Homo sapiens: one gene and its partner. The protein of the gene in region 1 interacts with the protein of each later gene in a pairwise test. Each region holds a gene or a part of one and is shown in the gene's direction. Other genes may lie near its edges.

What was found.
Region 2: the proteins of CORO6 (region 1) and BDNF interact in binary tests that used the Homo sapiens proteins (3 or more experiments, as listed by UniProt).

What each region holds. Positions count from the first base shown.
Region 1 is NC_000017.11:29,621,491-29,625,407, reverse strand, and holds the start of CORO6 (coronin-6), read left to right. Parts: upstream 1-2,495; 5' UTR 2,496-2,509; coding exon of another isoform or gene 2,510-2,720; intron 2,721-3,917.
Region 2 is NC_000011.10:27,693,539-27,697,455, reverse strand, and holds part of BDNF (neurotrophic factor BDNF precursor form isoform a preproprotein), read left to right. Parts: intron 1-3,917. UniProt on the Homo sapiens protein: Important signaling molecule that activates signaling cascades downstream of NTRK2. During development, promotes the survival and differentiation of selected neuronal populations of the peripheral and central nervous systems.

The sequences.
Region 1 (3,917 bases):
CGAGCTACCTCATCCAGAAAATGGCTTCCTAAAAGATGAAATCCATGGCTGTCTTCTATGGATTGCCGTTCAGAGCTAACAGTTCAAAAGGGAGGCACGAAGCCCAAGTAGCTTCTCTCCCTGATTGGTTCTTCCTGCCTTAACTCTGCCCACTCACAGCTCTGTCAGGCCTTGGCAGCCAGAAGAAGGCTAGAGGGCAGGGCTGAGCTACGCCAGGCCCAAGCAAATATCTGAATCCCTGTACCCAGAAAGCACTGCTCTTCCTAGATGATGGAACTGAAGGGAGCACGCATTGAAGGATTCCTGCTTCCTAGTCCCAAGCGCTTCCCTCTAGAAGGGAGTCTCCTGTTCTCTTTAAAGAGAAGGAGGGTGGGGGTAGGGGAGATGCCACTTCAGAGGAGGCAGCACATAAAATCCCTACTCTGCTAAGGAGTGGTGCAGAGTTGGAAAGAATCTGACCCAATCCTGTTCAGAGAGCTGTAAAAATATGGCGATTGAGCCAGGACTGGAACCAGTTTTTTAATTCATTCCAGGCATCCTTTCCTCTGTGCCACACAGTATAAACTCTCAGTTACGTTTTAGCTCAGCACTTGTGAGATAAAGTGGCACTGTCCTTCAGGGAGAGACAGAAATGCATGCTGCTGAAAAGCAAGAACCAGATGCCAGACCACGTGGGTAAGAATCATAGCTACATCAACTACCAGTTGAGGTTGTGATGGGTAAGCCACCTAACCTCTTTGTGGCTCCATTTCCTCAACTGTTAAATAGGGATAACAACAGTACCCACCTTAGAGGATTGTTTTTTGGTTTTTTGTGCGTGTGTTTTATTTGAGACAGAGTCTCATTCTGTCACCCAGGCTGGAGGGCAGTGGCATGATCTCAGCTCACTGCAACCTCTGCCTCCTAGGTTCAAGCAATTCTCGTGTCTCAGCCTCCTGAGTAGCTGGGATTACAGGTGTGCATCACCACACCTGGCAAATTTTTGTATTTTTAGTAGAGATGGGGTTTTGCCATGTTGGCCAGGCTGGTCTCGAACTCCTGACCTCAGGTGATCCACCTGCCTCAGCCTCCCAAAGTGCTGGGATTACAGGCGTTAGCCACCCGCGACCAGCCTAGAGGATTGTTAAGAGTATGAAATTAATACGTATAAAGCCCTTAGTGCCAGTGCCTAGCACATAAGCATGGGTTATTGTTGTAAAGGAGCAACTGAGTCACTCAGGTATTTTCCTCCTAATCATGTGCCTGGAATCTTTAGGTAAAAGAGAGATGACTCACATACCCTCATACCCTGCCCCAGCACCCCTACGCCAGGAGTTATTTCTGGAGCACTCGTAACAGTTTTTTATTCTGTTCCCCTACAAGCCACTGACTCTTGATTTGATTCTGTCCCTACAAGCCACCTGGACTCTTCCTGAGAAACAAAGGAGCCTCGTGGGCCCTTCATGGTTTCTACCACCTTCCCTCCCTTTCCTCCCCAGTGCTGGTTCCTGCCCTTCAGAAGGCTGTGTTCCATTCACTCACTCCCAGGTGTGCCCTGGAGGGTGGGAAGTAATAACTGGCCCCAGATGCCCTTATGATCCAAGGGAAGAAATCCAGGCAATGTGCAGACACTGGGTAGACTGGAGCTACGGGACTGGCTGGTCTTCACTGGCTGTATTTTGATCAGGTTATCTTTAATCTCCTTGACCTCGGTCAACATTCAGTTCTGTGAATATTGGGGGAGACGGGGGAAGCTTACCTGGAACACAGTCGGGCGCCAATTCAAACAAGGCCCAGAAAACATTAGGAGTCTGGCCTCTGAGTTGGCTTCTCTGACCCCTAAAATGTGACTAGAGACCGGTGCTAGCCTCTTCCCCCTGCATCTGGGAGGGGAGGGAGTGTCAAGGTGGGTTCACTTTACACTCGGTCCTCCCCTTGTTCTTTCAGCTGCTTCCTGCCCTGCTCCATGGAATCTCATCTAATGGGGTGAAATGCCTAGCACACAGCCAGCATTTTAGGTTTCTCAAATGATCGCTATTGCCATTCATAACAATAACTAACATTCACAACCCTGTGTCGGGTGCCCTCTCACTTGCCCTACATCAGGATCAGCCTGGGTCCTCATTCTCTAGGGCCTCTTTCCCCCAGGGAGGCCTGGAAGTGCAGTCCCGCAGTCCCGGCCGATCGGGACAGCTAAATTGGGAGCGCGATTGAGGCTGGAATGCGGGTGGAGGCACCTGGTCTCCCTCGGCTGCCCGCTCTAGGGGCGCACGCCCCCTCGCCCGTTCCCTCTCCAAGCGTCCTGCTCTAGGTCTGCGAACCCGAGCCTCCCCAGCCTACCCGGGAGTCATGGAGGGAGGGAAGCAGCGTGCGCACCTAGCACACAGCTGCACATTTATTTTCGATGGTTCTCCGAGGCCGGCGGAAGCTGGGAGGGGAGTCGGGGTCGCTCGACTTTCCCGCCGCTGGAGGGGGCGGGGCAACTTGGGCTCTGGCCCCGCCCCTATGCTAGCCCCGCCCTCTTAGGTTGATGGCAGCGGCAGCTGGGGCTGCAGCGGCGCCGGGCTCTAGAGAGCCGCAGGATCGGCCAGAGTGCGGAGCTGGACACCCGGGTCCCAGATACTACAGACACCCGGAGAGGTGGCTCCTTCGCCCTGAAGCCTTCCTCGGCCCCCTACGCACTCGGGCCCCTTCCGCAGAGGATTCGCAGCGTGAGCGCCCCGCAGCCCGCTCAGGACCAGGTACCCAGCCCCCCACACCCGGCCGTCACCGCAGCCAGCGGAGCGGGCGGGGTCCCTGAGGGGCAGAGGTCTGCGCCTCCTCCCCCCGCGCCGCCAAATTCGGTTTCGGGCGGGGAGGACGTGGTGTCTATATTTGGCCGGACAGCAGCCAGCGCTCCCGGAGGGCGCAGACACCTCGTCTCGCAAGAACGCAGTGTCAGGGCAGCAGGCTGAAGAAGGGTGCAGGGAGGCCGGGCCTCAGGCTCGGGGCCGCAGACGCGCCTTGAAGGGCACACGGATGCTGGGGCTGGGGTGGGGCAGGAGCCACTGGCTGGGGCTTTGGGAGTGCTCAGTGTGTCCTCTAGGGAGACCCTAGCTGGAGAAAAGGCACCTCACCCTCCCCACCCCTGCAAATCTGGCTTGGCCGTGGCGGGGGCAGGGGTGGAGGATGGGGTTGAAGACCCCACCCCTAGAAGAGTTCACTAGGAAGAAGGCCCAACCAGGGCAGAGGACCCAGAGGAGAAACCGGACAAGCCTATGGTAGGCAAAAGCCAGAAGACCATGATCAGGGCTTCCTGGAGAAGCCAGTGCAGAAAGGAGTGGGAGAAGAGGGATCCACCTCACTCTGTGCTGCCACCCGTCCCCCCACAAGGCATGGGATGAAAACAGTAGCAGAAAGGACTCAGATTGGTGGACAGGAGGAACTTCCCCCTTGGCAAAATTTTAGGAAAAGGCAAAACCCCATCTGCCTGAACTATTCCAGAGATGCGAGTTCGGTATCCTGTGGTGGCTGCAGTCTTGGCCCCATACCTGGCTTTAAGCCAAGATCCAATGGTCAAGTCTTCTGCTTCTGGACAGGGTGCCTCTGGGAGCTACAACCACGTCCGTGAAGAGATGCTCATCAAGGCTGGCGGTGGTGGGGGCGGGGGGTGCAGGCAGTGTGGCATTGAGGCTCCTCCCAAAAACATTCCAACGTCCAGAAAGCTTTCAGTCTGTTAGGCTCCACAATCCCCTCAGCCTGGGTCTCTGTGGAGAATTCAGGCCCCAAATCCTAGCCACTTACATTAAACAGCATTTTACACAGCAAAATAACTTTCCCATACTTTGACCACCTTGAAGAAAGCTCCCTGCTTCTAGGACCAGACACTATATGGATTTATACCTGACTCCTGACCACATAACCCTTCTCATCAGCCACCCCTCCACTCCTCCTCCCTC
Region 2 (3,917 bases), on another chromosome or scaffold:
TTCTAAAATCCTGGCTCAAAGTCCGTGGGTTTCCTGTTTAAAAGGGGCGCCATGAAAATGTAAGCTATTCCCTTTTTCCTGGAATCTTTAAGAGTCCCAGCTTTTCAATAGTCAAAATGTAGATGATTGATATCATTTCTTATATGAATAGCACTGGTTTGTAGTTCAGCACGCACAGTGAGCTGGGCACGCCCACCTGATAGTATAGCAGAGAACTTGTTTACATTCTTTTTACATTCATCTTCTAAAACCTGGGGTGCTCTCTCTCTCTCTCTCTCTCTCTCTCTCTCTGTGTGTGTGTGTGTGTGTGTGCGTGCACGTGCGCGTGTGTGTAGAGGGGGAGAGAGAGAGAGAGAGAACTGTGAACTGTGAAATATAACACAGCCAGCAGCTTTGGGTCTCAATCGTAGACTTACTCTTAAGGAAATTTACAGAATGGAAAGGTCATGTTCAAGTAGTTTATTAACATTTTGAGATGTAGGAAATTAATCCCGGAGTACAGAAGAACAATTTCAGACTTCCTGAATAAAAACAGACAGCATAGAGAGTGGATGATAGCTAAACTCTGAATATCTTTTGAGAAGAAAGGCACTCCCATTTCAGGTGCCCATAATATGGATTTGATTTTAGTGATTAAAACATTAATTTTCAACTTGCATCTCCCTGTGTGGAAGAGTTCAATTTGTGTGAGGGGTCTCGCCTATCCAACAAAAGTGAATATGTCCCTTTTATAGGGTAATTGCTAACTTGTCTCAACTTGTTTTCAAACAATTGTTATAGAGCACTCAGTTTCCACTAATTGCAAAATTGTTGCTTAATTGAAGGACTCTCAGCCATCTAGTGCAGCCATTCAGCCACTGGCAGGCTCTGTGATCTCAAACTGTGAATTGCATTTTAAAGAGGAATCGAGGAGAGAATTCTGTGGAATTCTAGGTTTTAAGTGCTGGCTGTTGTTCAATGGAAGAGGAAATCATTTGAACAAGAATCGCATCAAGTTGTGTTGTGATAAATTTTCTTTATTAGGATGAATAACATGCACAGATGAGCTTCAAAAGTGAATGAGCAAACTTACTGGTTACACTCTGCATCCATTTACTCTGTTTAGTATGGAGTAATGTTAGGCAATAAATGATGCTGGCAAATGAAATCCGTATGTTATTTGCATGTGGTATTTAAACCTAGGAAACATAGAGTGGCTTTGGTATTTGTAGGCTTAGTCATGTGTGTCCTAAACGTCCTCTTAAACTTCTACTTAAGGCATAGAATTATTTAATCCTAAATAATTTTATACTTAAGTGCCTCACTGGATTTCCAGAATATTTACACTGTAAAGATTTAGAAAGGTCATGAACCCAATTATTGACTATATGGAATCATTATTGATGGCAGATGCAAAATGGAGCTCACTAATGTACTGACATTGAAAACCTTTTGCAGGGGAGAGGAGGGGGAGTGGTAAATGTGTGTGTTCTTTAAGTGGAACAGGAAGGTATTCTCTTTTCTGTAGAAAAATTTGAGTATCTGGTCAGATAAGTGTGGAAGCTTTCATTTAAATTAAGTATTTAAGTTCAAGTAGAAGCTCTAGGGCACTTATCCTCTTGATGAGACAAATCTTATCAAATATACTAGATGCTAAGAAGTGGCTCATTGCCCTGATGTCTCATTTATAGATTGATGTTTGAGGATGGGTTGCATTAAGTGAGTTAGGGGGCTGAGTGTGGGACAGGAGAACGATTGGAAGGAAGCAAAGTAAATTTACAAGCTTTAGTGACAGCCATAATAAAGTAAAAGTTTATTTCCAGAGAGCCTAGAGAGTAAGGAACGTTATATAGTTTTCCCCAAAGGTTCACTTGAAAGAACTTTTCATTGGTTGTCATGGTAGTAATGTCCTGATTTTGAAATCTCCCAGAACCTAGTAGCTCTTAAACATGCTTTCATCTTGGTTCCTTTGGTCTGACGGAAACTTTATGACGACCCTCTGTGTTTTTGACATGCCTCTGCATTTTTGGAGAGAGGAGGTCAGGCAAGGGAGGATTTCTTAAAACTAAGACAGTATAGTAAGGAAACATAAAATTATATGATAAAAAATCACTGAACTTCAAATTGACTTACTGAAATAAAACCTAGAAGGCAACCTGTCGTTTAATTACAACTAGCTTGTATAAAATTAAAATTTATAAAATGGGAATTCAAAGAAAATAAACGGGCAGTTCCAAGTAATTTAAGCAACTCACCAAAAATTGAAGTAATAGTGCCACCTAGAGAACAAAATCACCAGCTTTACTAGCCAAATGGCTTATTTCCATATGAACCATTTTTCCAACGCTACAGTTACTAGGATTTCCTTGTTACCATATTCAGATCTTGTGAGTGTGTATGGGGGTGGGGGTTGCATGTGGAATTACAGATGAAATTTTAAAACAAGCAGATCCACAATTTGATATATGCACTAAATCCTTTTAACGTTGTAATGTAGCCAAATGTAGAATAGCATGCCAGGAATCAACGGCTAGCATCCTTTTTAACATTTATTATTTTCATGGATATGTACCAAACCGAACCATTGAGTATAAAGGTTCTGATTTTATTTATTTGCTACAGGCAATTCATTATACTTTCTGAGATACAATAACACCAAATAATTTGAGTAGAGAGACCTTTAAGAATGTTTTCGATTTATGATCTACCTTTAACTTTAATGTACTCAGAAGATGTGAGAATAAAATAAAGTCAAATATAAGCAAGATTTTAAACACACACACAAAAAACAAACAAACAAGAAAAAGGAAGAAAATTATAAGGATTGCCTTAACCTTAGAATAGATGAAGGTATACATCTGAGCCAGCACCAAAAAAAAAAAAAAAAAAAGTTATGGAACCAGGAACCAATAATTACAAATTGACTTAAAATTCTTGGATGACAAAAATCTATATTTAGTTCATTTTTGCATGCGCCCACAACAGCATCCAAAACAGTTCTGGGGAGGCACTTTGATAAATGTTGCTGAATGCACTAATAGATTGATTAATGGCTGCTTCAGATTATCACTAGTGATGTAGACAGAAACTTCATGAAAATGGTTTGTCTTGCTGGAAGAAAGGCAGAAATTGGAGGAAAAGGTTTAATAATATTTTTCCCCAGTACCTATTATAAAAGTCATTTAGTTGGCTTAGTTCTATAATTTCTTATGTGTAATTTGATTCACTTATGAAATTGTGAATATATGAAATGTTAAAGTTGATTTAGACAGCAACTATAAGCTTGTGGATTTTCTTTTAAATGTCTTCAAATTTTTAAATGCCAGTGGAGATGCCAGCGACTGTGCTTCAGGGAGTAGAATATAGTATATCTTAAATTTGTGCCAATTTCTGGTAAGCAGAGAAAAAATTGCATGATAACCAAAGAAAGTCATATTGTTTGTGCTTTGTGTTATTCATGGAAGCAATCAGGTGCAGAAAACTTTCTTTTTCAGAAAAAAAAAATTACTAAAATAAAGGTGCGTGTGTGTGTATGCACATATATCTAAAGGGAGAGAGGGAGAAGGAAACTTACTAAATAAAATTTTTGCCACATGGGATTTAGTCTAATCAGTCTTGGTTTTGGAGTTGCTATCATCAGTAGTTCCATTTTGTGATTCTTTCTTTCTGCCTTCATGTGCCTTTGAAAACTGAAACTATGCCCAAATTAAAACAAGTTTTTCTGTCTTTTCACATGTTCACTTATTTCTTGAATGTGTTTTTAAACACAGACAAACTTCTTTTACATCATGTAGAATCTGAAGGTCGAGAAATTTGCAGTCATTTTGCTGGAGAGAGATGCTTGGCGGAGTCCCAGGCCACATTCCTAGGCCAAACTCTCGAAGGTATTCCTCTTATGCAACATTGGGAAAATACATCCAGCACCGACATGTTGGCTG